2 linked regions of the Homo sapiens genome follow. The protein of the gene in region 2 purifies or fractionates together with the protein of the main gene of each other region. This does not show direct contact. Each region holds a gene or a part of one and is shown on either strand. Other genes may lie near its edges.

Region 1 (3,826 bases), on a different chromosome or scaffold from region 2:
ATACCTTATTTCCAGCATAACAATTGTGTCTTTCATAAATTCTTGAATTCCTTTGCTTTCAAAATTGGCAGTACCTACATAATTGGGCTTGCAGCATGAAAAATTCCTCCTGTGATTTTGTCTGAAGGTTTCTGCAGCTTAGTTTCCCAATATAAATAAAACATTTCATTAGTGTGAGGATGCTCTCTCACCACACAAATTGACCCTAATTACAACTTCCATTTCCCCTGTTCTTGAAAAACTTTGCACATCTGAAGCTGAGCTGTCATGGTTTTTTAATTAGTATTACTCATAACTCCCAACTCTAACTTCCATAAAGTGTGGAAATGTGTGTGGGAGCAAGACATTTTGTATAAAATAATAATGGGCACTGCTAACAGCTCCAGAGCCCAGTGATGCCAGGCAGACCTGAGTCATGAGTTGTCTGAGAAGCAGCTACTTCCAAGGCAATCACAATTTAACAGTTTAAAATTAAATTACACTTGCTTTACTTAAAAAATATATTCCTAAAAGTCAAACAAGAATTGCATTTTTCTCCGTGGAATTTTGGCAAAACAGTATAAAATAAATCATTGTTCAAAAATAATGAAATCTCCTAAAACTAGAATGATGTAATAAATTATTTTAGTCTTACTATTATTTCTACTAAGTTGTTTAGAATAATTAGGTGGGCAGCGGTGCCTCACGCCTATAATCCCAGCACTTTGGGAGGCTGAGGCGGGTGAATTGCTTGAGGCCAGGAGTTCGAGACCAGCCTGGGCAACATGGTGAAACCGTCTCTACTAAAAAAAAATATATATATACAAAAATTAGCCGGGTGTGGTGGTGAGTGCCTGTAATCCCAGCTTCTTGGGTGGCTGAGGCACGAAAACTGCTTGAACCCAGGAGGTGGAGGTTGCGGTGAGCTGAGGCTATACTCCAGCCTGGATGACAGAGCAAAACTCTGTCTTACATTTTTAAAAAGAATGATTAGTATTACTGGGGCATAGTCATTTAGCAAATGCATAAAATAAGTGTGCTACAACATGGGAAGAAAAATGATACCAGTGTGCAAAGGCAAAACAAAATAATACAGAAAAAAAATTTGAATTTATGATTTACTCTAAAGGTAATATATTTGACTCAGTTTCAGCTGGGAAGTATTTTGGGGGATGTCACGTTCAGTGACATTAACTGATATTGAGTACTTTTGAAGGGAAGAAGGGATGAAAAATCATCCGCATTTGATATTTGGTCAAATAGCCTCTTGGGAAGGAGCCAATTCCAACTTTTCCTTTCTCATCACCATAACTTGGTATCTTTTAAGTGGCTTCCATTGCATTAATTTTTTCAATAACTCATCCTTCTGGGGGAGACTGTTCATGAGAAAAAATACTGAATGAAGGAGCTCTGACTCTATTCAATTTTAAAATCTTATATAACCCGTTCTTGCTCATACACTGAGTAAATAGCTGTTTCAACTGTTGCATAGTAATGGAGGGCCCTTTAGAGCTCTCAGAACTTTTTTAACCCAAAGGCTAGATAGTACCGAGAAAATGCTCCCTATGAAACCGTGATTCTAAAATGAACTATTCTTGAATGAATAATAAAATCCTACATACCTACAGCAATTAAAAATTGCAATTTCAAGTTGGTGGATTCATCTTTTATCTACACATGCAAATCTCAGCTTCCTTCGGCTGCTCCAAGGTAGATTCAGTGTATTTTGAGTTCTGTCTCTACCAACTAGTGTAAGCTCTAGACCACTAAAGACCACCCTCTTGAGAATTCACAGGAAAGATACCCTGTGGGCTCATATTCAGGTCCTATCAGCTACCACCAGGCCTATTCCTGGGCTCTCAGCTGCTTCAGCAACTGTTGGTAATCTGACAGAGAGAACGGTGATGTTGAGAATATTTAACAACTAGGACAGAGGCACCGACCTATCAGAATGGCTGTAAAAACTGGTTCAGGCATGCTGGTGTGCACCAGCTAATCTCAGCCTGCTCAGATGGGCCCAACCTCTTGGCCGGCTGCTCTCAGGCTGGCTTGGTCTGGCTCTGCCAGGCCCTGGCAGGGCAGGCTTCCTGCAGCGTGTGTCTGCTGCTGCTTCAGAGCCTGGGAGGGGGTCTGTGGCAACCTCTCTGCTCTCTCTGGGTGACACATCCTTAGAGAGGAGCAAGACCACTGCCGCGTACGATGCATAGCACCCAGAGTTTGCAGAGAAACATCTCCCACCATGTTCGCAGCCTTTTCCCTTCCCAAGAGATCCCAGAGGAGCCATTTGCCCAGTGCTCACAGTGGTGAAAAGCCTCAAATCTAGACTTTTGATGTGATTTCCAAGTGAGGTTAAATGTACAGTCACAGAGATACGCTGACTGGACTGAAAGGGGAGATATTTATGTTTAAATCTGGTCTCATGACCACACAGAAGAGCAAGTGGTCCTCCATAAATGAACACGTCTAAAAATCCTGTCATTTCCAGCCAGGCACTGTGGATCACACCCGTAATCCCAGCAGTTTGGGAGGCCAAGGTAGGCGGATCACCTGAGGTTAGGAGTTGGAGACCAGCCTGGCCAGCATGGTAAAACCCCATCTCTACTAAAAATACAAAAATTAGCCAGCTGCTCAGGATGCTGAGGCACAAAAATCACTTGAAACTGGGAGGCAGAGGTTGCAGTGAGCCAAGATCGCGCCATCTTACTCCAGCCTAGGTGACAGAGCGAGACTTCATCTCAGAAAAAACAAAACAACAACAACAAAAAAACCTGTTATTTCCTTGGAAATACGTATCACAGTAGACACAATCATTGTTATCAGATGTTGACTTGTTAAATACATATGTTTTTAAAGCACTATAATTTTTGTCACGGGTTTTGATGCTTAATTGTTTTTAATATATAGAAAGTGTGGAAAAATGGGAATGGCCCAGCATCAAAAACTCTGAGATGCCTGGGTCTGCCCAAGGTAACTGGCCTCTTACTAGAATCTGTCTTCTCACAACCAAAGCTCTGACATCTGCCCAAGCTGGTTGGCCTGACTCCCTCTTCCCTAAGGATGAGTTTGTTTCCAAGTCTCCGTCTCTTTTACAAGTTGACTTCCCCTAGAGCTGACTGACGAAGCCTGAGAAAGCCAGGCCTGACGAAATTCCAGGGGGCCCATTTTAAGCTAAACCCGGGAGAACAGCACTCAGTAGGAACTTAGTTACAGTTACATCTTACATACTCACCACCTGCCCAGCTTCCATTTAGGAAAAAGGAGTTCACAGCTTTAAAAGCGTTTTGAGAACAACTGCCTTAGAATGTTCATCTGCTGAGCAGAAGCGTGTATTTCTTAAATTCCAGACTGTGGCATCTTCAGAGGGGATAAAGGACAGTCCTTTCAGCTGAGTTCGTGAGTCCCGTTCTTCATGTTCTGGGTCCCAGTGCCAGAGAGTTCTGCAGTGCTGACAACCTGCACTCATACAGTAAATATTGTTCTTGTTTTCTGAACCTTTGGACAGTTGGGGGTGAAGGGAAACTTAAGAGGACTCTGTCCCCAGCCAATTGTTTGGATCATGAAATAAAGGAAGCCTGGGAGCTGAAGTAGAAGTCAGTATTGAATCTCCTGGGCCAGAGGCCACCAGGGTCAGTTCTGCACCATCCTCTGTGTGACCGTGGGCCGATCACACATCTTTTGACCTCAGATTTCCCTTGTGTGAGTTGCTCCATCCGTCTAATATCTCACTTCATTTATATCTGTTGTCAACTCTAGGCACCAGAATTTCAAACTGAGCTTAATCCTGTCCTATATTAAGATGGATTGGAACATGTCCATGAAAGCTGAAAAAATTTACTAAAAATGTAAC
Region 2 (3,826 bases):
GGAGGATAAGAATAAAATCTCCTATGAAAAAGTAAAAGTCCAAGTCTGTACTATATGTAAGATCAGATTACAATTTCACTTTACTCATGTGATGCAAGAATCTGCAAGCATAAGTTCAAAATAAAACCATTCACAAAAGACACGAAACTACTCATCATAAGTGAGTAAGCAGACACAGCAAATTAGAGGATTAATACCCGAAGAAATCAAGAAAACAGATGGAAAAGAAGAATAAAGAACATAATTTCATGAAATAGAAAAAAAATAAATTATGGAAATCAGAAAACACAAAATAGGATTCCAAAATGTTAGTGGCCAGGCACAATGGTATGTGCCTATAGTCGCAGCTACACGGGAGGCTAAGGCAGGAGGATTGCTTGAGCACAGGAGTTTAAAGCTACAGTGTACCATGATCTTGCCTGTGAATAGCCACTATACTCCAGCCTGACCAACACAATAAGACCCTCTCTTAAAAAAAAAAAAAAAATTAGTAATATACATGTAGTACATTTACGCTCATTTTTTAAAACACAAAATAATATCAAAAGACAGTTACAAAAATATAATGAAGATACAAAACATGTATGTGAATACTACCTATATGAGGATGATAATTTCCTCTAGAAGGGAAGGGAAAAGAAAAAGGGAAAGGACTTGAGATGTAACATTTTGCATAAAAACAAAAAGAGCTAGCTGATACAGGTTTATTATATTGTCAATAATTCTCAGTATGTTTATATTTCATAATTAAAAGAACTTTTTTAAAAAAAGAAGAAAAAGTCACTTGAAACAAATACTGACCCCAAAACCTTTGGGTTTAATTACCATAAACTCAAGAGCACAAATTGAACTATAATCTTTTTGAAAGCAGCATATCATGAGACAGATGAATCACTTAATGGTGCATTTGCAACCTGTACAATGATTCAAGGAAAAAGGCTTCTCAGGAGGAAGGGAGACAAAAAGATACCTACTTCTGATGCCTGATCATAAGGTTCTCACACAGAGGACAGGGCTTGTAGCAGAGTTAACTTTTTGAGTCTTCCTTCTCAATAAATAAAAAAAAGAATTATCAAGCAGCAACCTGAACAAGACAAGCTTGACACCTCATCCAAGGGTGTTCAGGACTAACAAGCTGTCGCCTAGAGAAGTCAGAAAACACAGCCCACCTCCCACACTCCTATCCTCTCCTTCCACTCTCTCTTCCTACTCATTGCTCTATCCTATCATATCCCACACCCACAAAAAAAGTGACACAATTAAGTATAGAAATTGTAAATATGCATACATATATACATGTATGCACATACACACACACATACATAGAGTAAAAGCAGAAAGACGTTGGAGCAAGTCCTAGAGAACGCCAAAGGTCTCTTTTATGGAACTATATTATCTCTGGAACTTTACGACAAGATATCCTCAACGAAGAAGCAATCTATGTAAATAATTCTATAAAACAATTCCTACACATGTATCTAAAAGCAGAATTATAACTTTTTTGTCATAATAATAATTTCTTTGTTCTTTCTAAAGCTGGAAATTAGCATCATCCCTGCAAATATACTTAACACTCAAGGAATTAAAAAATATACAAGAACTGAAACCTAAAGAACCTTCTCTGATATACAGCAGTTGAATATTAACCACAAGTGAGATGACATGACAAGAACAAAAATGTATTTTAAAAGATATGCAGGCTACAGATGCTTCATATGGACATTCAAGATAAGCCTGAGAATAGTCATCAGAGGAAGCAGAAATTGTCATGAGACATTCTTAATAGTAACTAAGGGAACAAAAACTACCCTAAGTCTACTGAGATATCTTGTCAGATTCTACCTAAATGTTTGAAATGTCTCATACTGAGTTTGCCTGAATGTCAGCAACTTTATCATGATCTAGAATTCAATTATGAAAACAAATCATATATAGAACAATATTGTTTATATTTGATGTTCATACTGTTTCTCTGAAGAACCGAAGACTCACCTGTACCAGATGTATTGGCGTAAAAATAATAAACGATCTGTAATCAAAAGAAATGGCAAAGCCAAATATAAATCAGCTGTTAAGAATCATTTTCAAATTAGATTTATAGATGAGAAATCTAAAATATACTACAGAGCGAGTCATTAAAAAAAATAAAGAACTCAAGTCTTAAAATGAGAGACTAAATATAACCTAATATACACTGTAACATTTACAGGGTCATATACTTATTAAATTCCATGTTTGTGTGTTATTCAAAAGTTTCAAGTATTTCCTAACTGTTCAAGAAATAAAAGCAGTTTGAGATGTTAAATTTAATCTAAGAAGCTTTCATGAAACCATGGACTAGAAGTTATAATAATCACCCCTTAGAAACCAAAATATTTGTATAAAAAATTAAAGCAAGATATATTTTACACTTTATAGCAAAGATTTTTAAAACAGTAATACCTAAAATGGGAAAGCCCACGGAAAACAAAACCTCTAACACGCTATAAAAAACAATGCTTTCTATCATCCTAAATGTACATGTATGTGTGTACCTGTGTATGCAGTTAGGTATATATCAATGGAAAAATATCTAAAGAATAACAGATTCTCTCTAGGTGGTATGAGGACAAATTTTTTTCTAATTTGTAGTTATCTATAGTGTCTGTATTTTCTACAATGAATTTTTATTATTTGTACACATTTTCTAAATTCTCAAAATTTAAAAGCATTTGTCATTATGAAAACTGAATATGCTAGTGCTTCTTGTATCAGAAGATAAAATTAACTATAATTAACTGTAATTTTATCAGAAGATAAAAGGATAATCAGAAGATTACAGTTAATTTCAAGTACTTAACTTCTGTGAAAATGAATTTTCTCTTTATAAGGAACTTAAATTCACTGGTATAAGGATGGACTTTGAAGCCAGAAAGACATGCAGTCAAATTCCAAATGAATGACCTTGAGCAAGTTTTCTTATCTAAAATCATAAAGGAGTAACGGCACCTTTCTGGTCTGATAAAAGGACTCTATTAATGAATATGGTAAACCCGTCATGGCACCAGCTCAGTAAACCTAGTGCTCAATCCTTTCTCAGACTCTTGTTAGTTCATACGTAAAATTTGTCAGGAGTTAAATGAATACCCTGGCTTATCAAATCTGTAATTTGAGTATCTCTGACCAGATCTATCTGAAACACCACATAGACCTCTTAAAATAGTCTCTCAGTGTATTTTCACCTTCAACATCCACTGACTTTCTGAGACTCATACTGGCTTTGACCTTCATTCCTTCTAGAACAGCGTCCCCCAACCTTTTTGGCACCAGGGACTGGTTTTGTGGAAGACAATTTTTCCATGCAACCTAGATCCCTCACACGTGCAGTTCACAATAGGGTTTGCACTTCCCTGATAATCTAATGCTGCCGCTTATCTGACAGGAAGTGGAGCTCAGGTGGTAATGCTCACTCACCCATCGCTCACCTCCTGCTATGCAGCCTGTTTCCTAACAGACCACAGACTGGTACCAGTCCATGGCCCAGGAATTGAGGACACCTGTTCTAGAATACATCCATAATGGTTAAACCAAAGCTATATACTTTAGCTCTAAGCTGCATTAGAGCTAAAAACGTGCATGCGTAAATATACAAATGTATACATATACATACATATGTGTGTATATATAAATATATATATAATTAAACTCAGATAACACACATTACTTTTATTAGGCTCCACATCAGAAGTCTAAAGAACACATTTTAACTGTTAACCATATCATTACTGTAGAGAAATAAGCTATATTTACCTCGAATTGCTTTCGTGATGATAAAGGATGCACCATG

Evidence for each region.
Region 1: the proteins of NBAS (region 2) and SLC2A12 purify together in Homo sapiens (co-immunoprecipitation; one large-scale study listed by IntAct). This does not show direct contact.

Annotation. Positions count from the first base shown.
Region 1 is NC_000006.12:134,045,853-134,049,678, forward strand, and holds part of SLC2A12 (solute carrier family 2, facilitated glucose transporter member 12), read right to left. Parts: intron 1-3,826. UniProt on the Homo sapiens protein: Insulin-independent facilitative glucose transporter.
Region 2 is NC_000002.12:15,554,791-15,558,616, forward strand, and holds part of NBAS (NBAS subunit of NRZ tethering complex), read right to left. Parts: coding exon 3,790-3,826; intron 2,030-3,789; coding exon 1,993-2,029; intron 1-1,992. UniProt on the Homo sapiens protein: Involved in Golgi-to-endoplasmic reticulum (ER) retrograde transport; the function is proposed to depend on its association in the NRZ complex which is believed to play a role in SNARE assembly at the ER. Required for normal embryonic development.